2 separate regions of the Homo sapiens genome follow, and region 2 is linked to region 1. Evidence: fine-mapped expression QTL. A gene starts in region 1. The other region holds a variant in brackets. All regions are shown on one strand. Distances are between the middles of the regions.

The links. PIP is the estimated chance that this variant, and not a neighbour inherited with it, causes the effect.
Region 2: its variant is fine-mapped to the expression of CDK16 in tibial nerve (GTEx, PIP above 0.99).

Annotation. Positions count from the first base shown.
Region 1 is chrX:47,217,119-47,220,028 of GRCh38, reverse strand. CDK16 (cyclin dependent kinase 16) reads right to left here and starts at 1,348. Exons shown (of 16, transcript NM_006201.5): 1 at 924-1,348. It overlaps LOC105373194 (a long non-coding RNA gene), which reads left to right and starts at 1,379. Exons shown (of 3, transcript XR_949047.4): 1 at 1,379-1,526; 2 at 2,895-2,910. RefSeq lists silencers at 835-904, 915-1,024, 1,045-1,204, 1,905-2,014 and enhancers at 622-1,261, 1,405-1,474, 1,595-1,714.
Region 2 is chrX:47,324,889-47,327,798 of GRCh38, reverse strand. No RefSeq gene overlaps it. Among named protein-coding and RNA genes, the nearest start is that of ZNF157, 44 kb to the left of the region's middle. The variant A/G (reference allele first, on the strand shown) is at 1,442.

The DNA.
Region 1 (2,910 bases):
CTTCGTCCACTAAGCCTCTGACAGTGCTAAGACACTTCCCCACCACTCCTTCCTGGGCCCAGACAGACACGCAATTCTCATCTCCTTTAGGCCAGGCTCAGGTATTCCACAGTCCTTCCTCCGTTAGATACCCTCAGGTCCTTCCTCCACTCTGCCCTCATTAGCATATACTGGGTCCCAAACTACCTAGACCTTCGAGGCCACAGGCATACACCCTCTACAGCCATGACCCCCACTGGCGCACACACCACACTCGAGTCCTTCAGCTACCTGCCCTCCACAAGCACACACTGCATTCTCACACACTGCAGGCCCCACGGACAGACACGCAGTATTAACACCATCCAGGGCCTCATCGCCACGCACCAGGCCTCAGAGCCCTGACCCCACCAACACACGTTCTGGTACCTGTGCCACCCTGTCCCCCATGAACACACACCGGGCCTCTCTGCGGACATAATCCCTATGAGCATGTCTTAGAACTTCCTCGACACCCTACCCCCCGTTATACACCCTCGGGTCCCTCACCCGCTCCGCACCCCGCCCTCCTTCCACAAGCACACACGGGGCCTTGAACCTTACACGACTTATTGGCGTGAGGCTTACTGCCACATGCTCCGACCCCCATCAGCAACCCCCCCAAGTCTTTCACCCCATTGTCACCCATTTCCACACCCTTTGGTCCTTTGACTCCCCCAGGTCCCCATTAGCACCCACAGCACTACCCAACCCCAGCTCCCAGGACAGGCCCAGGGCGGGGCCAAGGTCAGGGAGGCCCCAAATGACCCCCCGCCCCGGTGCATTCTGGGAAATTCGCCGGGGGTGGGGGCACCTGCCAGCCCCGCAGCCCAGACCCCTGGGCACCGCCCGAGGTGGGTTCTGAAGGAGGAGGGGCAGCCTCCACGCCTCGGGGACGCGCTCACCGGCGGGGGCGCGCGAGCAACCTCAGAGCCGCGGGGCCGGCGCGGCGGCGCCTGGGGCGGCGGCCCGGGATGAGGCCGCGCGACCTCCTTCTCCTCCTGTTCGCCGCAGGCGCCCGTCCCAGTAGTCTTCAGCCATGGTTGCTGGGCCCGGGCCGCCGCCGGCTGAGGAGGAGGAGGCGGCGGCGGCGGCGGTGGCTGAGGCGGAGGCGGCGTCCCGCTCAGCCGGCCATGAGCTTGGCCGCTGCGGGCGATGCCCCCGGACTCGTTGGCGCCGGCTTGAATCCGAGTGCTCACGGCGGCTCGCGGCACAGAGCGGTCTGATCGCGGAGTGGCGGCGGATCCCAGGGCCGAACAGCCAACGGCCCAACCGCCGCGCGCGCCGCGCTCCGCGCATGCGCACGCAGGCGCTCGGAAGGGTGAAGTGGAAAGGAGGGGACTCACCTCGGACTGCATGTACCAAAGGACCCGTCCGCAGCGGGAGGGGACGCGGCCATCGCGAGCCCAGAGGAGGATGCGGCGCCAAGCCGGAGACGGCACCAGGGAGAACTGTGGAGGCTGTTTAGTACTCAGTTCCGATCTTGGCAGAAGTTTGCTAGCGCCTAGGTGAGCAGTGGCCAGTAACCTGGCGCGTCAATCACCACTCGTTCCCCCTACTCGGTCTCACTTGGTACATCCCCATGGTGGCAAACGGGACTTTTGCAAGGAGGAAAAAAGACAAATGAAGCACTCAGTTCTAGTCCCTTGAGGTGCTTGGGGAGGAAGGCATTTTAAAGGTTCGCGAGAAGATGACTTTTCGAGGAGAGGCAGCCTGAAGAGTTATTGGCCTTTACCACCTTAGCTAGGACGGCCTATCCCCGCCCAACTGCCCCCTCCACCGCTACCTCATTCCCGTAGTGAACGTGTGCAGCCCCGCCCTTTGAGGTTGTCGCCCAGCCAATCTGATTTGCTCTCTGTGGCGAGGCCGAGCAAGAATAAAGGGCGTGGCTGACTGAAGAGGCGTGATTTCGCTCTCTACCCGACTCCGCACGCCTCCGCCCAGGTTTCATAGGTTTTCACCGTCGGCGGGGGTGGGGTCTCCTTTTTGTTCTGAGCTCCTCCTTCGCTATAGGCCGAATATTCCGCAAGGTGATTGGTCATAATTGCGCTCAATCGAGTCTCGTCCCGCCTTTAGCCCGCCCTCCATCTCATACAGCGGGCCTCCCGGGGTGGAACCCAGGCTGAGAAAGAAGGAAAGAGGCGGATCCTTAGAGGCGCAGGAGCCGCTACTGCGCATGCTTGGAACTTCGAGCGGGGCGGAGCCTCTTTTCTGCCTCACACGAGTATTTGCATAGGCGCCGTGCGTTGGATTTTCCTGCCACCTCTCTTGCCCGGCACAGCCCCTCCCGTGCCTCCCCTCACTCTGAGGGTTTTTTGTTTTGTTTTGATGTCAGTCAACACAAGTAGAACACTCCGCGGTTTTATTTCCATTTTATTTATTGGGCGCATGTTGTGTGCCAAGTACTACCAGGCCGACCTAATCCTTCACTTCCTTCTGCCTGGAAAACCACACTATCCCCAAGTCCAGCTCAAAGGGCTGCAACCTCCAGCAGGCCTTCTGGCACATCCTTACACTACCCTGTTCCAAGGCAGCCTCCCCGCCTCTTCCGGGCTTCCCTTTATGGCAGCCTTGATCACAGCAGTTAGGATTTTCAGTAAGGTTTACATTAGTGAGATTTCCCGGGCCATGATGGGAGTGGAAATATTTGACAAAGATAAAAGTCCTCGCCTTGGCATAGAACAGGCTCATCACTTCTCTGACCTCATCTCTTCCTCTTCTTCCCCTGACTCACTGCCACCATACTAGCGCTCTTTCTAGCTGTTTGAGTGAAACGGGCACAATCCAGCCTCAGGGGTTTTGCATTTGCTGTGGTTCCCTTTGCCTGGAATGCTGCTGGCCCACATCCACGTGCCTCATTCTCTCACTTCTTCCAGGTGCTTGCTTCAAAGT
Region 2 (2,910 bases), 110 kb before region 1:
TTTTCCTCACAGACTGAAAGCTATGGTCACTAAAGTGTTCAGAAGTGATGATAACATAATCAAGACTCTTCCTTAGGGCTTGAGGGTTCCAGCAAACATCTCTGCCATCTGTCTGCCTGCTTTTTCTGTCACTTCTGAAATTCTGGTATCATGCCCGTGGTCAAAGCAACTAACTTCTGTGGCTACTAGAACTTTCTTCCTGCTTTTCTCACTCTGCACTTCCTGCTGCTGTCAATGAAACTCAGCTTCTTATTCCCAGGCACTCTCAGAGTGAGGATCCATAGGAGGCTTTGATTCTCAGGACAGATAACCCCATCTTTCCTCTGGTTCTGACCTATTTTTCTGTGTCCTTGTTACTGTGGTCATACCCAGAGAAGTAACATTTTGTCTTGAATTTGTAAAAATCTCTACCTTTCCCCACAAAGGGATTTCAGCACAGTGGCTATTTTAACAGATACCATGCAGCACGTACCACACGTTCCCTTCCTGAGTCCTTGAAAGTAATTTTCAGCTTTTGATCGGCTATATTGTTCTTCCCAGCTACATTTTGGGAAGTCCAGCAGAATAACTTGCTACTCTTTTAAAGGTCCTAATGATAAAACGAAACAAAACATCCCCTTTTTATCATCACCCACAAAGCCCTAATGCGTGCAACAAAGATTGTGAAACGTCCAGGGAACAGTTTGTGAGACAGAAAGGATGGCTTTGTTGATTAGCAAAAAGCTGGAACGTGGACACTGGCAACACAACAGGATTGGGACCCGCCTTCTTCAAGTGAAACAAAGTTGGAATTATTTTCAATTTTAATGTTAAACGGTTTTTTTGTTTGTTTCCAAATTATTTGAAAAGTTACTAATCCAAGCGTGGTATGAGTGGTATCATTTTGGTAACTAGATTAATGCACTACCAGATCCTAGAATTTCCCACTTTACCAAATAAAAGTATGTTCTGTGGAATTCTCCTAGACCAAGACAGGCTTTTCCCCTGAGCAATAGTGATAAAGTTGTCTAAATACATGAACTGGTGGCATTTTTCAAAAAGTAATAATGTTATAATCAAGAGGTGGTGTTGCTATGTTGCCCAGGCTGGTCTTGAACTCCCAGTCTCAAGTGATCTGCCAGGAGGCTGAGATGGGAGGATCATCTGAGTCTGGGAGGCCAAGGCTACAGAGAGCTGAGATTGCATTGCTGCACTCAAGCCTGGGTGACAGAGTGAAACCTTGTCTCAAAAACAAAACAAAACAAAACAAAACAAAACACTGCCACCATGCCTGCCTAATATTTTTATTTTTATTTTTGTAGAGATTGAAGGGGGTCTCACTATGCTGTCCAGGCTGATCTCAAACTCCTGAACTCAAGTGATTCTCCTGCCTTAGCCTCCTAAAATGCTGGGATTACAGGCGTCTTTAAGTGCTGGGGGTCGGCATATTTAAAATGAACAC[A/G]CTGCCTATAATCCCAGCACTTTGGGAGGCCAAGGCAGGTGGATCTCCTGAGGTCAGGAGTTCGAGACCAACCTGGCCAACATGGCGAAACCCTCTCTCTACTAAAAATACAAAAATTAGCCGGGCATGGTGGTGGGTGCCTATAGTCCCAGCTGTTTGGGAGGCTGAGGCAAGAGAATCGCTTGAGCCCAGGAGGCAGAGGTTGCATTGAGCCATATCGTGCCACTGCACTCCAACCTGGATGACAAAAGGGAGGCTCCGTCTGAAAAAACAAATAATTAATTAATAAAAATAAAATGAACACACTGTTTTAGTTTAACAGACTAAAGAGGTGCAACCGTATGGAATAAATGAGCCTGGACTTAGTCTTGTGTTTTAAAAAAGTTATAAAAGATGTATGGGAGCCGGGCGCAGTGGCTCATGCCTGTAATCCCAGCACTTTGGGAGACCGAGGGGGGCGGATCACAAGGTCAGGAGTTCAAGACCAGCCTGGTCAACATAGTGAAACCCTGTCTCTACTAAACATACAAAAATTTGCCAGGCATGGTGGCACATGTCTGTAGTCCCAGCTACTCGGGAGGCTGAGGCAGGAGAACCGCTTGAACCCGAGAGGTGAAGGTTGCAGTCAGCCGAGATCTCGCCACTGCACTCCAGCTTGGGCAACAAAGTGAGACTTCGTCTCAAAAAAAAAAAAAAAAAAAAAAAAAAGATGTATAGGACAACTGGGGAAAATTAAATATGGACTGGATATTAAGCAATATTAGGGAAGTATTTAGAATATTAGGGAATTATTTAGAATTATTTAGAATTGAAAGGTATTACTGTGTGCAGCTAACTTTCAAATGGTTTGGGGCTGGACGCGGTGTCTCACGCTTGTGATTCCAGCACTTTGGAAGGCCAAGGCAGGCAGATCACCTGAGGTCAGGACTCTGAGACCAGCCTGGCCATCATGGCATAACGCCATCCCTATTAAAAATACAAAAAATTAGCTGGGCATGGCGGCGGACGCCTGTAATCCCGGCTACTTGGGAGGCTAAGGCAGGAGAATCACTTGAACCTGGGAGGCAGAGGTTACAGTGAGCCGAAATCGCACTATTGCACTCCAGCCTGGGTGACAGAGCGAGACTCTATCTCAAAAAAAAAAAAAAACAAGAAAGAAAGAAAAATAAAAATAAAAAGGCCAAGTGCAATGGTTCACGCCTGTAATCCCAGCACTTTGGGAGGCTGAGTCAGGTGGATCACTGGAGGTCAGGAGTTCGAGACCAGCCTGACCAACATGGCGAATCTCCATCTCTACTAAAAACACAAAATTAGCCGGGTGTGGTGGCATGCACCCATAATCCCAGCTACTTGGGAGGCTAAGGCAGGAGAATCACTTGAACCTGGGAGGCAGAGGTTGCATGCAGTGAGCTGAGATTATGCCACTGCATTCCAGCCTGGGTGACAGAGCAAGACTCCATATTAAAAAA